2 separate regions of the Homo sapiens genome follow, and region 1 is linked to region 2. Evidence: fine-mapped expression QTL. Tissue or cell type: unexposed skin. Region 2 holds a variant in brackets; the other region holds the start of a gene. All regions are shown on one strand. Distances are from middle to middle.

Region 1 (8,104 bases), 430 kb before region 2:
TCCCCCCAAAGGGTCCAGCTGTCCTGCATTGCCTTCCTGTAATCTGTTCACACGTTGCTCTTATTCCAGTTCCACATGCCCTGAACTCCCAGAAGGTTGCTCTCAGCAGTGAGCCATTCATTCCTCAGAGATTTGGGAGCCCTCACCACGTGCAGACGCTGTGCTGCAGGCTGGGAACCACAGGAGAAATGGCTGAATGTTCTGTGGGTGTGGCTGTAGGCAGAGGGCTGATCAGTGAGGTGGGGTGGTGACAGTCTTCTATAGGATGTCGTATGCATCATTTATCAACTTAACTAGGACAAGAGAATGAAGGGGGGTACTATTAATAATTAATTAATAATTATAATAGGACAACAGGTGTAAGCTAGAGCTGTCTTACATAGACAGAACTGACACATGACAGAAGAGTTATGTTTCTTGTCTGTCCCTTTAGGAGCTGCCTCTAGGGCCAGTGGATAATAATTACAGGGCAAAAGGTTTCAAGTCAAAATTAAAAGGGAATTTCTAACAAAGAGCCTCTAAGAACAATGTGGCTATTTTATGAGGTAGTGAGTAGCTCACCACATCAGATATGCAAAGGGGTGACCCACCCTCCAAGATGCTGTGTATAGCTGACACTGACATGCCAGGCAGGCCCCCAGCCTAGGTAAGCACAGGCTAGCCTTTGACTGTGATCTGAAGCACATATTCTTGGCTCTCTCTTTCGGTGAGGGTCAGTAAGCTATTTTATATGCAAGGACCACATTCTGCTCTTCTGATTCATACGTGACAGACACATTTGGATAAAAGCAGAAATATAACAGGACTGAAAGATTAAAACTTGCTGTCTTAGCATACTTAATATTCACTGATGCTTACACATAATGTAAATATCTCTTTGTTTAAAATGAGTATAGGCTGGTCTCTGTGGCTCACGCCTGTAATCTCAGCACTTTGGGAGGCCAAGAACGGAGGATCACTTGAGCTCAGGAGTTTGAGACCAGCCTGGGCAACACAGCAATACCTCCTTTCTACTAAAAATAAAAAATGAAAAAAAAATTAGTCAAATGTGGTGGCGCACGCCTGTAGTCTCAGCTACCTGGGAGGCCGCAGTGAGAGGATTGCTTGAGCCCAGGAGGTGGAGCCTGCAGTGAGCTGCAATCATGCCACTGCACCCCAGCCTGGGTGACAGAGCAAGACACTCTCTCAAAATAAATAAACAAATAAAACAAGTATTATCTTGACTTTAAAGAAAGAGACTTTCTTGTGACATATAAGCAAAATATGGTCAAAACAATTTGACCAAGGTTGAAAATGGACTGGAATCACTTCTAAGGAGCCAGCCTAGGTCTGTCGAATCAAGTTTGCTCACTAATAATCATACTTTGGTTATGTCGGATGTTAACATTAGAGGAAGAGGGTGGGGGATATAAGGGGATTCTTTGTACTATTTGTGAAACTTGTCTAAAATTATTTCAAAATTAAAAAATAACAAACAAAACCACATCCTTTGCTCCTGAGCCCTGTTCGCCCCAGACATTATGTGATGAACTCACTCCGTTCTTTAAGATCCAGCTCTGCAGAGCATCTCAGATTCCCTGTCCTGAGGCAGGTACTCCTGTATGAGCTCTTAAATACTTCTGCATTTACCTACCACCTACTGGTATGGTTTTCTGACTATATTTCATCTTCTTCGCCTCACGTGGAGTTTCTTTTAGAATGGAAAGTTTTCTTCCTTTCCTCTTTGAATCCTAGCACCAAGGCCACACTCGGCACTGAATACCTGTCTCGAATGAATGAATAAATCAATCTTGTTTGAACAAATCTTATTAGTTTTGCTTTTTTAAAATTATGGTAAAATGTACATAACATAAAAATTTCCATTTTAACCATTTTTAAGTGTATAATTCAGTGACATTAAGTACATTCTAAAGTTGCGCAGGTTTTTTTTTTTAAATCAGTTCTAAATGGTTTAAACTGGCCAGTATTTACTAGAGCTGTTAGATCGACTTAATTTGGACCCATGAGACTCGTGACACTCAGAATTAATCTAATCCCATTTACACCAGGTGCCTCCCATCAAAATCTGTTTGATCAAGTGTGGAATTATTTCATCCCATTGGAACCAGCTCTTGAATCAATCAGAACTGGCTCTGCCAGGCTCCGGGCCAGTAGTCGGTGCTCAAAATGGTGTTTCTTTCTTTGGCCTAATCTCTTGAGTAGCCTCTTTCCCTTTTGTTAATTTTTTTTTTTTTCTGGAGGACAATCTTCCCTGGGAGCTCCCTTCTGCTCCCACGAAGCGCTCTGCACCCAGCCCTGGTGCTGCCTGGCTCTGGGGCAGGGAGCTTGCATTCTGCCACCTCCTTCATTGTCCTCTCGGTATACCTGCACTTTCAAAACAACCCCTGCAGGCAAGCTTTAGAGGCAGCGATAAACAAACAGGCTGACTGAAATTTAGGGAAACGCCTGTATCTGGACAGCCTCTTCAAATATTTGTCACCCCCTCCCTGCTCTGGGGAAAGAAGAGACAGTTCCTCACAGTCACTCTATTTCCTGCCTTCCCAGCTCTGAACACCTTGGCTCGAATGTAAAGAATTTGGCTCTGAATTAGGACTCAAGAAACGGGGCCCTAGCAATTTTCCCTCCATTAACTAAACGCGTCACTTTGGTCATGCCCTTTTGGGGGCAATAATTTCCCAATTCGTAAAATGAAGGGATCAAAGTTTGATTTTTATCATTACTAATGAGAAGAATTATTATTTTTTTGCAGCAGGCTTTTTTTTCCCCAACAAAATATTACTCTGAATAAGACAAGAAAGAATCCCGAACGGCTCTGGCCGTCAGGGTGTGTGTGTCTCCTCCCCATGCTGTCTAACCCCCGTTGGAATTTGGAGGGCTCTTGTCCTTTCCCCTTGGCCTCAGAAGGAGCCCAGCGCGTCCTACCTTGCGTGGGAGTGTGTGTGTGACCAGGGCTCCTTCCTGCCCTTAGAGTCACCGCCCCCTTCTCGCACAGGTTTACAGCACCACTTGCCTCGCCCACTCCCCGCTTTGCCTCCGCCCCATCCTGATGCTGCCGGAATGGCTGTTCCAAATGGAAGGATGCCCGCGTCCGTCCCCTGCCCCAGTCCTTCAACAGGTCCCCACAGACCTCAGGATAAGATGAACGCGGAATTCAGGGCCTGGTCTCAACCGCCCTCTCCCTTTTCCTCTCACTTAGACGACCCTGGCCAGCTGGGCCACTCTCCACTCTCGCCCCCTCCCGCCCTCGTGGCCTCTGTCTAGACCGTACTCCCTCCTACTGGGTGATGTCTCTTCCCCTGGGACCCAGGGACCATCCCGTTGTTGACCTCCGGGGTCAGGGGTGCGGATGGGGGCCGGCCCTTCCCGCGGTCGCCGCCAGGGGGCGGCAGGAGCGGCTCCAGATGACAGCGGGAGGCCGCAAGAGGGGAGGGAGGAAGGACCGAGGGAGCGCGGATCCCGCTCTCGGATCGCAAACTCTGAGCCAGAGCTCTCCGCGCGCGCCTGAACCGCTGGCCGCCCGCGCAGCCCGACGCGGAATCGGGGCACAGCGGGAGCCCGTGCAGGGCGGGCGCGGGGCGGCTGGGCGGCGGTGGCGGCCGTCCATGCGGCGGCGCTCGGGGCTGCCCGGCGCCGGGAACCACGCGGGGGCGAGGCGAGGCGAGGCGGCCGCCGGTCGCTCCGGGACGCGGACCGCCAGGTGAGCAGAGCCGCGCGCCCCGCGTCCCCTGCGCGCCGCCCGCGCGGCCCCGACCCGGCTTCCGCTGCCCAGGCTCCGGCTCCCGCTCTCTGGCCGGCGGGGCGGGCTGGCGCGGGCTACCCAGTGGGTGTGTCCGGGGCGCCGCGGGCTGCGCCGCTCCGGGCTCGGGGAGCCAGCGCGCGCCTGGTCCGTGCGGACGGCTGCGCCTCCTTCTCTGGTTCTCTTCCTTGCTGGGAGTCTTGCTCTGTGCTGGCGCCGGCGCTCATCCCTCCACCCTCGACTCTAGGGACAGTCTTAAACTCTAGGGACAATCCACCTCAGTCGTCCCCGGGTCGGGGCCCCGTGCTCCCCGGGTCGGGTCGGAGGGGACCGGCGAGTGCACACCCAGCCCGTGCGCCCCCCACCTCAGCCTCGCCTCCCTCCCGCCTGGGGCCCGAGAGCCGGGCAAGTCTCGGTCAGCGCTCCTTGAGTCCTGGCCTGGGGCCTCGGATCTGTGTGTCTGTCTGTCTCAGTTTAGTTGCTGCAACCCAGCGAGCGCCTGGAGCCCGAGTGGATGGGTTGTTTCCGCCAACTCTGGACACTTCCTCAAGTGCAGCCTAAGTACCTGCGGCCCCTTGGCGCACTTACAGAAGTAGCTTTTGCACAGCGAGCTCACCTTGGAGCTCTACAGATCTGGAAGTTAAGTTTTCTTTTTATTTGAAATAACATCAGCCCTCACTTGGGAAGGGGATTTTAGGGCGTTCTCGGGCCCACCTAAGTATCTGGAATTTGTGGTCTAGTAAGTTTTTTAAGCAGTCCGCACCCAGCACCGTACCTCCCAGCCTCCTTTGCCGTCTTACTAAAAGTGCATGCTTGCTTCTCTTCCTGTCTCCTTTGCGATCTCTACCACGCTGCGCTTCGCCCTTTTCGGGCTATGAGTCTAAAGCTTGGACGTGGGTAGCAATCATTGGATGCCTGTTGGAATTTGGAATTAGAGAAATAGATACCCGAGAGAGATCTAAGGAATCGCCTTGTCCAACCCTCCTTTCACAGTTGGAGGCACCCAGGACCCCTGACAGTCTGAAGATTTTTCAAGGATCACACAGCTTTTAAAATCCGCGTGTCTTCTACTTGATTAATATTGTTGGAGGTGATGGAGTAACTGGGCTTACTAGGGTCTTACTGGGTCTCAATATACAAAGAAGCAAACATTTTAAAAATGTGACTTAAAATACGGAACTCTTCAATTCCTATAGATTTTTGTTGGCATCATAGTTGAATTCCTTTAGAAAACAAAATCCTAGCCCTGAAATTAATGTGAGGAAGCAAGCAGATGGGCGTCCTGGGACTTTCCTATAAATCTCTGCAGGGCTGGAGCAGGGATTTCCCAGAGGTCTGGGCCTGGGAAATGAGTTTGGGTGATCAGGATACTGGAGCCCCTTCTGAATAAGCAACTGGGTTGGTTTCTTGTGGGGAGGCTGGCCAGTGGAACTCATGTGATCTCCTCTGTGCCCAGCACTGGGCGGGGCACCAGCTTGGCATTACCTTCTTTTTAGTCTCCTATGCCATAAAGAAATATTTCTTACTGGCTGTTAGCGAAAGAAAAATACAGCCCAGAGTTTGGGAGGAAGATCAGGGGTGGGGAGATTTTTGACTTGGAGTTTGTTTTTGTTTTTGCCTCGAAAAACTTGTGGAGATTGCAATCAGTTATCCTACACAGAGGCTGTGTATTGCCGTCTTCTCCATCCCCCACATTTCTCTCCATGGTACCACTTTTATCCTAATTGCTGGGAGTCTCAATGTTTAAATGTTCCCAACACTCCCATTCTGTCCCCCACATTTATAGCTCATTCATCGCAAAATCTCTTCCACATTCTTTTGTGATATCTGAGGAATTATTTACCTGTCTCCATTCCCACTGCCCCCACCTTCAACCATGTCCAAATTACAGTAATAATCTCCCCTCTTGACTCCCAGCCACGAGTTGCTTTCTTCATTTTAATCCATCTTCTTTCATGCTGATAGATTAATATTTCTGAAATTCTGATTTCACCACATCATTTCTCTCAAGAAATCACAATGGCTCCCCAGTATTCACTTCTATTTAATTTATCTCCAACAGATATTTCTGAGCGTCTGCTATGTGCCAGGGACTGTTACTATGTGCCAGGGACTGTTACTATGTGCTGGAGCTTACGCTATGAACAAGACAATATCATTGCCTTCAGGGAGTCCACAGGCTAGCAGATGATAAATAACCACCCAGGGGAGAAAGGGAAGTAAAGAAATAACCGCAATACAAGGGGGATGTGCAAAACATCAAGGAGATGCGAATGAGGGAGAAATTGATTCTGCATGGGAGGAGCTAGGGCAGTTACCACTGGGCTTTGAAGCCTAAGGAGGAGTTCAAGGAGATGGGAAAGGCTGGTGGGGAGGGAGGACAGGCCAAGCAGAGGAAAGAGCTCGAGGAAAGACTGAAAGATAGGAAAGTACTGTATGGACACGGTTGAATCCAGGTTACTTTTCATCAGGGCATTTAAAATGTTTCCTAATCCCAGTCTACTTTATTGATCCAAGAGCCATCCCAACGCCTTCCTGCTTGAAGGCCATCCCTCCACTCACCCAGTCTCTATCATGGTCTTATCTGCCCTCCCCACACCTCCCATCCCCAGCTCAGAAATTCAGATTTCCCCTCTTCTGATCTAAATTTTGCCAGGCAGTGTATCCCACCCAGCCTTTCTTGCACACACTCCTGTGTCTCTTCCCTGCATTCTTTGTGCCTGCTCTATGTTCAGCCTGGATGAGCCTCGCCTCCCCAGCCACTCTGAGGTTTCCCCCGAGCAGCCTCCTTGGGCCTCTCCAGGTCATGGAACACACTGTCCTCATGTTAGTGGCCCCAGCACACTTGAAAGCACATGACTATTTGCCTGGGTTTGACCCCTCATCTCACTTTTCTCTTCTCTCTCCTCTTCTTTCTGGTTTTCCCATCTTTTTCTTTGCGTGTGTATGCAGAATCGTGATGTTTACTTATGCGCAGATATAAAGGTTTCATGTGTATTTGTTGAATATCCTCGCTGTGAAAATGGATTAAAAATGTTATGCTGGAAGCCAACACATGATGCAGGCTGACGCAGGTGAGGAGAAGATTCAGGGGAAGCTCTGGCTTTAGGCTGCTTTGCTGCCTCTGGCCCCCTCTTGGGATCCCCCAATTTTACTCCTCCTCCGCAGGACCGCTGTGCTGAGGCTGGGACACCCCTTCATCATCTAGGCCTGTTTTGCTCTCTTTTCCTCCTCCTGTCAAAACTTACTTCTGTGCCCACAGCCTCGCTGGCTTGTTAGCCTCACTGGGGCCATGCTTAGTGAGCACTGGTGTGTGCAATGCTTGGGGCTTTCAGTGGTTTCTCTTTTAATCCTCCCAGCCACCTAGAAGGGAGACATCAGCATCTGCCTTGTACAGGAAGAAAGTTGAGGCTTACTTGCCTGAGGTCAGCAGCTCAGGTTTGGAGCTGAAATCTTAAACCCAGCTCTCTAAATCTGGTGTTCTTTCCACTATATCATTATTTCCTGAAACAGTTGTCTTAGGAACATCTGAATCAAAATTCAGATCTGGTGAAAGAAAACACAGGCTCCAGGGTGGAAGCAGGGCTCGAGAACTGGCGTTTTTAAGATTACCTCAGGCGATTCTTCCGCACACCCAGGTTTGGGGACCACTGCCCTGGGCTTCCTTTACAATGTGGTTCTAGCGACAGGTGGTGGGTTAATACGCCACTTTATCCCAGGCAGCATGTTCCTTTTTGACAGAGGCCCTGACTTTGACTCTAAGGAGTGAGCAATGGAGAGTTGTGGCCAAGGCCAGGAAGAGGGTCCTCTCTTTTGGCCCGAGGGGTCTTTAGTTCAGTCCTGAAGGCCCAGCCCCCTCAGCTTACTCGAAGGCATGTAAACCCACCTGCCACCAGACTCACTGTGAATTTCTTTTGGGACCTGAGCGAGTGCTCAGGGAGAAAGACCAGGGTGGGTTTGTTCAAGAGCCCCAAGTTGCTTGGTTTGGGACCCCCCGAATAGGGCTGGACAGGCAAAGCCAGCCCCTTCCTCCCTGCAGGCACGGTGAGTTGAACCTCCTTTCCCAGAATGGGATCTGGCCGTTGACAGATCTCTTTCATTCAACTGGCCTTGCTCCACTTCCTACCCACCCAGCCTCAGTTTCCCCATGTGTAACAAGAGGATGGCCAAAGTCTGGAGGGCTGGTGGGGGACCAGTGCATGGGTATGCAGAGCTTAAGGCAAAGCCCTAAGGCACATAGCAGGCGCTCAGTGTTAGTTCTCGCCCCATTTCTTTACTCTGTGCCTGATCAGTGCTTGAGACAATTGGAGCTCAATGTATTGCTGTAACAAAAATGTATATGTAATCTCAGGCCCCCTCAAATCCAGG
Region 2 (8,096 bases):
GAGGAATGCAAGTATCCATTAGGCAACTGGGTATATCGACCTACAGGTCAGGAGGGAGACCTGGCTACAGATGGTTGTAGAGAATCACAGATGTGGGCCGGGTGTGGTGGCTCATACCTGTAATCCCAGCACTTTGGCAGGCCAAGGCAGGTGGATCACCTGAGGTTGGGAGTTCGAGACCTGCCTGACCAACATGGAGAAACCCTGTCTCTACTAAAAAATACAAAATTAGCCAGGCATGGTGGTGCAAGCCTGTAATCCCAGCTACTCGGGAGGCTGAGGCAGGAGAATTGTTTGAACACAGGAGGCAGAGGTTGCAATGAGCTGAGGTTGCACCATTGCACTCCAGCCTGGGCAACAAGAATGAAACTCCATCTCAAAAAATAAAAATAAAAAAAGAGTCATGGATGTGTAAAGCATTGGGGCCATTGGAAGGATAGGATGGCCCAACAAGGGCAGATAGAGAGGAGACAGGGCCTAGAATATAGGAATTTAGGAGCTAGGCCCAGGGTGTGTCAAGGAGTCCAGAGCAATGGTAACAAGGCAGTGCTGTCATTAAGAGTCAGGCTCTGGACAAAGGCTTTTAGGGTCAGAATGCCGACTGCCACCTACCGCTGTGTGACATGGAGCAAATTATTTAATAAGACTGTTGTCATGGTTACATGAAACTATTTTAAAAGTTTTTAAAATAATTTTAGTAATACTGGGCTCATAGTGCTCAACGAATGTTGGCTGATTAGAGGCAAAGGAAATCTAGAGCCATAGCCCTGGAAGCTATGGAAAGAGAGTGGTTCAAACAGGAGGACATACGTTTCACACCCATTAAGATGGTTATTGTCAAAAAAGTGGAAAATAATAAGTGTTGTCAAGGAGGTAGAGAAATTGAACCTTCATGCATTGCTGGTGAGAATGCAAAATGGTGTCACCACTATGGAGAACAGTTTGGTAGCTTCTCAAAAAGTTAAACATAGAATTACCGTATGATTCAGTGATTCTACTCCTAGATATATATCTAAAAGAATTGAAAGCAGGGATTCAAACAGATACTTGTACAGCCATGGTCATAGAAGCATTATGCGTAACAGCCAAATGGTAGAAACAATCCAAGTGTCCATTAACAGATGGATGAATGAACAAAATGTGGTATATCCATACAATGGATATTGCTTAACCTTAAAAAGGAATGAAGTTTTGATACCTGTTACAGAGTGGATGAACCTTGGGAACATGCTCTGTGAAATAAGTCAGACACAAAAGGACAAATACTGTAGTGTATGATTCCACTTATATGAAGTACCTAGACCAGGAAAACTCATGGAGACAGACAGTAGCATAGAGGTTGCCAGGGGCTTGGAGGAGGGGAAATGGAGAGGTAGTGTTCAGTGAATACAGAGTTTCTGTTTGGGATAATGGAAAAGTTCTAGAAATGAATAGTGGTGATGGCTGCACAACATTGTGAATGTACTTAACGCCACTCAATTGTATACTTAGTAATGGCCAAAATGATAAATTTATGTTGTCTATATGTTACCACAATATTAAAAGGAGGACATGGTTACAGAGAAGTAAATGAGTTCTTAGTGATTCTCTTTTGAATTTTGTGACACAGGGGCCATTGGTGACCTTTCCAGAGCCCTTGCAGTAGAGCAGACAGGTCAAAAGATTGCAGTGGATTGAAGGGTGATTGAGAAGTGTCTAGACCAGGGGCTGGCAAACTACTGTCAAATCTGGCCGCCTGTCTGTTTTTACAAATAAAGTTTTATTGGAACACAGCTACACCCATTCATGTGTGTGTTGTCTGTGGTTTCCTTTGTGCTATAATGGCGGCGTTGAGTAGTTGCTACTTGAGCCCACGTGGTCTGTAAAACCTAAAATATTTACCATCTGGCCTTTTACAGAAAGTTTCCCAACCCCTGGCTAGACAACACTCCTGGTCTTTCAAGAACTTTGGCTTTCTTAAATAATTCCTGCATTTCTCATGAGGTTACTCGGTAGATAACTTTGCCCCTTTAGTTAGGTAGCAGAACAGAACCAAAGCTGAACAGTAACAATGACTAAGAAGGAGGAAGAGGAAAAATTCATTCCTTTCTTTCCTTAACTGGAGATATTATCCTCACTATACCTTTTTTTCTCTTACAGCCCTGTAAAAAGGAATGAAAGTTCTTCCCTCCCTGTCCCCCACCAAAAAACTCCCCACTGGTAAATGGTCATGTGACTGGTGATAATAAACTTTCTGAGATGGCTACGAACTGCAGTTAGGTTTAAAGTTTCCTCATTAATGCAGGAAAATGCTCATAACCTGAGGCTTTTCAAGTGTTTATTAATTTACTTTCTGGGGCTGGCTGCTGATACTTATTTCAGATCAAAGAGAAAGCCTGTGTCTTTAGTAGTTACTGTGTGCCAGGAACTATGCCACATTTTGTGCCTAGGTGAGCTCATTGATAGTCATCATAACCATAGGATGGCATTTCCCTATTTCACAGGAGGGGAGACTAGGGCTCACCAGGGTTAAATACTCACCCAGAGACACACATGAAGAGTTTGAAGTACAACTGGAGTTTAACCCACACCTGCCTAATTCCAGGACCTCAGGGTGTTTCCACTGCACCGTGCAGTCATCCTATCCTCTGTGGCCACCAAGAGCCTCAGAATAGCACCTTGAGCCCACTCTAGGCAGAATACAGTACTTGATGGGTTCTAATCCATTTTAAACCATGGTCTCTGCTATTTCAGGATAACAGGTGACCATGTAAAGTGTATCTCAAGTGCATTGTAGGCTTTAGGAAGACCCTTTTCCCAGCCTGCTCCCCATGCTCCCAAGCCCCACTTTGATGGTCTATGTGAGTCTACTCAGAGGTAGCTCTTATTTCTTTAAAACCATCCTGCATTTCAGTGTACTCTGACAGCACTGTCTGACACTTGGGATTCACTTGTTCCCATGTTACCACCTATTTTTACATTTTCTGCAATAATTCCTCAAGCTCTTGGTTAGGCATAGTGACCCAGGGATGCAGCAAGAGGGGGATATAATGGCTTCCACAGTTCCCATCCGTTTGTGTCTATACAACTGGTGCACAAACACACATCACCCTTGTGACTTCTGTCCCTGTTGAGGCTGCCCTTGATAATGCAGCTTTTAACTGCCTAGATTTCTGCAACCATCAAATCAGATCTAAAAGGGAACTCAGAAGTCATTCACCCAACCTTTGTATAAGTGAGAAAAATAAACTGCAGCCCAGAGCGGACTGGCAACTTGTCCAGGCAAACACAGCTTGTCAGTCCCAGATCCTGGACTAGGAAGGCCCTGGCTCTCCCCGTTCCCAGCCCGGAGCTCATCCTGCTGCAATTCACTGCCTCCTCCCTGCCTCAGTGGACGAGGTAGGGGCTGTCCCCCTGCATGTGGCGTGCTTACCTTGGAACCCTTTTCATGAATGAGACCAGATGCAGAACTCCACATTGATCATTTCTGTCCCTCCCCTTTCTGCTTTCTGTTAAAGGCAGCCCCCCAGCTCCCAGCTGGCTCCTGTCCCCTCCCCCAGCCGGGAGAAGTTATTACATGAAGAGATCAGCTTACCAGTTTTCTTCAGAACAGAGGCTGAGCTCGAAGCGCCGGGCAGTACAGTGAGGGAGAGCCGAGGGAACCAGCGCGGTGCCTAGCGGAACTCCAGGGCTGGAATCCCGAGACACAAGTGCATCTGCTAGCTGTTAGCACTTGGCAGACGGAGTTCTCCTCTAGGGTAGTTCTAACTTTGGGTAATAATGTTTGTCAGCTACCTGATATTAACATTGCTCCACGTTCAAACAGCAGTGTTAGCAAGACCTGGGGGAGAGGTAAGCCAAATAAAATATCTTGTCAGAAGTTGTATTTTTTTTCAGCATTATATTTCCTCTTCTATCTACCAAGAGGGATCAGGGAATGGAATTTTATGGGGTGCAAAGAGTAATGCTTTATATTACTTTTGTAGGCTTCTCTTGCCTTTTCTTATATGAAGACTTCTTTTCTTCTTGAAGAATTTTATACTTTCTAAAATGTCATTTTGAAGCTGTCTGTGCAGTTGCCACACTGGGAAGTTGCTCTGGCCTTGGTGACAGATGCCTGTAGCACGCACGCTTCTCCTGCTGTAGCAGAAAAAAAAAAAGATGTGCCATGTCAGATTTCGTTAGGGACTGTTACCTTTTGAGAATTTTTCTCCAGTGCTGCAGAGAGAATGTACATGCTAGGGGAATTGCTTTTCTTCCCTGCTTTTGCAACACTTCTCTCTTTTTTTTTTTCTTTGATGTGCTTAGAAAAATCTGTGCTTAACTTTCTATCATAG[A/G]TTTGAAGAGGGAGAATGATATACAACAGGGCTAGGAGTGTACCCAGATGTACCTTAGCAGGGAGACATATTTTAAGTTCATGAGGATGATTTATTATTACTGGTTTAGTTCATGTGATTGTTGGGTACAGTTTTTTTTTTTTTTTAACATCAGTGATACCTCCTGGAGTCAGTTTTTGATGCAGGCAAAGAGATTGGGATAGATGATCATTGAGTCCAGAGAGGGAAGCACCTTGGTGTATCCACCCTCACCTGCAAACAAGCCTGCAACGTATTTCCCTCATCCACTCCTTTCCCTCCTTACCCTGATGCCTGAGTAACGAAAGGACAGCCTTTCTCCTGCATCCATCTTCGTCTTTGAAAAGCCAAATGAAAAGTGTATCTCCTAAAAAGGCCATGAGGCCACTTCACAGCTTTGCCTTTTGTTAGCCTTGTCAGGGACCAAGCAGGCTCTGAAAGCCTAATGTAATTACTTTCCCTTGTCTAAGAAGAGTGGAAGTGGGAGTGCTCCCAAGCCCACGGCTGCAAGGCTAGCTGTGGTTTCAGCAGGCTTGTTGCTCTGTTCAAAACAGACATGCAGCTCAGAGACATGCAGCAACGGGTCACTTGTTGTAGGCTTTTCACTTATTAGTTACTCATGTCCTCTGCTCTGTAGACATTTTCTGGGCCTGTGGGGGGATTGAGCCCTTGAATGGGAGCAGGAGGAACTGAATGGGTGAGTGATGCTGGAAGCTGAAAGCAGACCATTGCCCTCTAGTTGTAGTTGAAGTTCGCAATTTCCCTGTTGATTTTTTTCGTGTGTAGAGTGAATGACAAATGGGCTGGCCTCACTCAGCCTGGAGCATTTAAGCAGGCGAGAGGAGAGCTCATATGGAAAATATTTCTATCACCGCTGCATGCACATATGGTCTGGGGAGACCCCCGAACTGAGCAAATCACAGTGCTCCAGCAGCCCCTCAGTGGTGTGCCAATTATTCTTATTAACAGCAAGCAAAGGGCAGGCTTTAGTTACCTGCACACAGCTGACTCGTGGGGAAGGCCACGCCGGAATCTGTGTGCCCCTAGCCTTGTGTCACATGCAGAGTGGCAAATGGCTCTGCTTCACCTGACAATCAGCAAAGCAGATGAAAAATGAAAGGGATTATACAGGCTCACCCAAATCTTGGTGCTTTTCAGACAGTGCTCAGCGTTTGAGAGAGGAAGGCAGAGGTTTTGTCTTATGAGTTAAAAGTATGTGTGCTTAACATGAATAGCTAGAAAACCCGATCAGAGGTAGTGAGATGCCTGCCCTCCTGCCCCTTTGTTCCACTCTGCTTTGCTAAGTAAAGATCCTCTTGGGCCTCTTCCTCTTTTCTTTCTTGCTTTCCCTCTTTCCCCTAGTGTGTGCATGTGTGTGCATGCGTGTGTGAGTGCGTGTGTGTTTCTGTGCTGTTGGCTCCAGAACGCCTGAGCTCCTAGGAAATTATACAATTAGGATTCCTTTTTCCTTCTTGGAAATGAAATGATGAGGAAGGAGCATGAGTATGAGTAGCCCCCACCTCTTAAAAAGAATGTAGTTTATATAGAGCTTTGAAGAATGTGGCATTTATTTATAACAGCCTCTTTTTTATTGTCGTGTTACTTGCAAAACTTACCCATAAACATGTGGCGTCGTCACTAAGTCACCAGGATTTTCCTTTTCTCTGCCAGCTGGTTTTCTTGCAGGTTTTAATTATCTTCCCTTTGGATGTTCCTAAAAACACATGAGGAGAAGGAAGAATGGGTAAGAAAGCGTCATACACCTGGGGGCGCTTGGAGGGCTGTGTTCTCCACGTGGGGCTGGAAGCCAAGCGGCACACTCTGGGAAGCAGTTTACAGTCAGTTTTCTAGGGTGTGAGGTCCTTTCAGATAAGCAGGACCTGGCAGGTGGGGAGAGGAGGGCTGTGATGCAAAGCAAGCCTTGTTTGGCGTCCTGTGGCTGGCACTGTCAGTGCTGGTGACTGTGGTCCAAGGACAGAACAACCTGGTATGGTGTCAGTGCATGGGTTGGAGGACAGACACAGAAAAGAACTGTGCCTTCTTTAATTTTCCCATTGCCAGAGCATTAAACTCAGAACAGTGAGATCATGAGAATCCCTTTTGTCTTAGTCAAGGTTAGGGTGGCAGTCGTGTACACTTGTACAGATGGGGCGTATCCCCGAAAAGACTGTAAAGGACTTTTAAAGTCAAGCTGGACTTTTGAGGCATTTGTCAGCGTGGGGAGCGTGCCAACGTGCAGCTTCTTTGCAGGATGCAGCAGAATGGCGGGGAAGGGGAGGTGGGAATGGGAGGCTTGCATTTTCTTTCTTGAACTTGGACTTACCTTCTCAGATAAGACCAATGAGACATTGTTATATGTAGGGACAGGGAGGGAGATGCAACTAGAAATCTGCTACATTCCATATTTGGAATAATATGATAAATTCTGCAAAGTGTGGTCAAAAAGATGTTCTTTAATTTTCTTATTTTTGAGACAGAGTCTTGCTCTGTCGCCCAGACTGGAGTGCAGTGGCACAATCTCGGCTCACTGCAAGCTCCGCCTCCCGGGTTCACGCCATTTTCCCACTTCAGCCTCCCAAGTAGCTGGGACTACAGGTGCCTGCCGCCACGCCCGGCTAATTTTGTTTTTGTATTTTCAGTAGTGATGGGGTTTCACTGTGTTAGCCAGGATGGTCTCAATCTCCTGACCTCGTGATCCGCCCACCTCAGCCTCCCAAAGTGCTGGGATTACAGGCGTGGATGTTCTTTAATTTTGACGGTACAGTATGGCAAAACCTATCAAAATGAAAAATAAATATCTTAGCTGCTGATGGGTACAGACAAGGTTTCTTTTCATGGTGATGAAAGTGTCTTGGAATTAGGTAGTGGTGATGGTTGCACAATTTTGTGACTATCCTAAAAACTACTGAACCATATCCTTTAAAAGAGCAATTTTATGGCATGTAAATTATATCACAGTTTTTTACATTAAAAATAAATAAATGTCTTTTGGATCCAGATTTTCCATTTCTAAGACTTTTTATCATATAGGTCTACTCTGAGTGTGTAAAATGTTCTATGAGCCACCTGTCATAATTAGGTCCTTTCCATCCTACTGTCCTAGTGATAAGGCATGCTGTGCATTTATTCAGAAAGAATGAGGTAGCTCTAGATGTGTAATGAAATGACTACCAGGATATGCTTTTAGGTAGGAAAAGCAAATTGAATGTGCATAAAATGCTCCCATTGTGTAAAATGTGTTATCGACTATAATCACCATTGCAAATGCTACCAAGTGTATTAACCCTGTGCTGAAAAAAGAAAGGTGAAAAGACCAGATCTTTGTATTTGATGAGCTTATACTCTAAAAGGGGCACAGAATACAAACAGTGAATGATCATGCAATAAGGGTCTCTCATTAATTGCAAGAGCAATGGGAAGCTACCTAAGAAAGCAAAGAAAGATTCCACAAATGATGACATATTTGAACTGAGGCTTGAAGGGCTGTGTGTTGGGGGTCTTCAAGATAACCCCTAAGATTCAATTATCTGTCGTGATTCAGTGACTTAGCATACATTGGCAATCACAGCTATGATTTATTACAGTGAAAGTATACGAAGAAAATCAACAAAAGGAAAAGGTTCCTGGGGTAAAGTCTGGGGGAAACGAGATGGAAGCTCCCGAGGTTTTTTTTTCCCAGGGAAGGCACGCAGGACCCACTTACTTCCCCTAGCAATGGGTTATGACAACACATGGGAAATGTTGCCAGCTAGGAAGCTTGTT

Which allele goes with the higher level. Alleles are on the strand shown, and positions count from the first base shown. SD is a standard deviation of normalised expression in the study named.
With allele G in place of A in region 2, the expression in unexposed skin of the gene that starts at base 3,470 in region 1 is lower (small effect, 0.18 SD a copy in GTEx).

What was found. PIP is the estimated chance that this variant, and not a neighbour inherited with it, causes the effect.
Region 1: it holds the start of THSD4, and the variant in region 2 is fine-mapped to the expression of THSD4 in unexposed skin (GTEx, PIP 0.98).

The regions. Positions count from the first base shown.
Region 1 is chr15:71,112,002-71,120,105 of GRCh38, forward strand. It overlaps THSD4 (thrombospondin type 1 domain containing 4), which reads left to right and starts at 3,470. Exons shown (of 18, transcript NM_024817.3): 1 at 3,470-3,697. CT62 (cancer/testis associated 62) reads right to left here and starts at 3,503. Exons shown (of 4, transcript NR_168260.1): 1 at 2,923-3,503; 2 at 1,630-1,762; 3 at 147-293. RefSeq lists silencers at 3,284-3,333, 3,370-3,547, 3,394-3,453, 3,484-3,623, 3,774-3,863 and an enhancer at 8,080-8,104.
Region 2 is chr15:71,543,651-71,551,746 of GRCh38, forward strand. All of the region lies in intron 7 of THSD4 (thrombospondin type 1 domain containing 4), which reads left to right. Among named protein-coding and RNA genes, the nearest start is that of THSD4-AS2, 140 kb to the right of the region's middle. The variant A/G (reference allele first, on the strand shown) is at 4,317.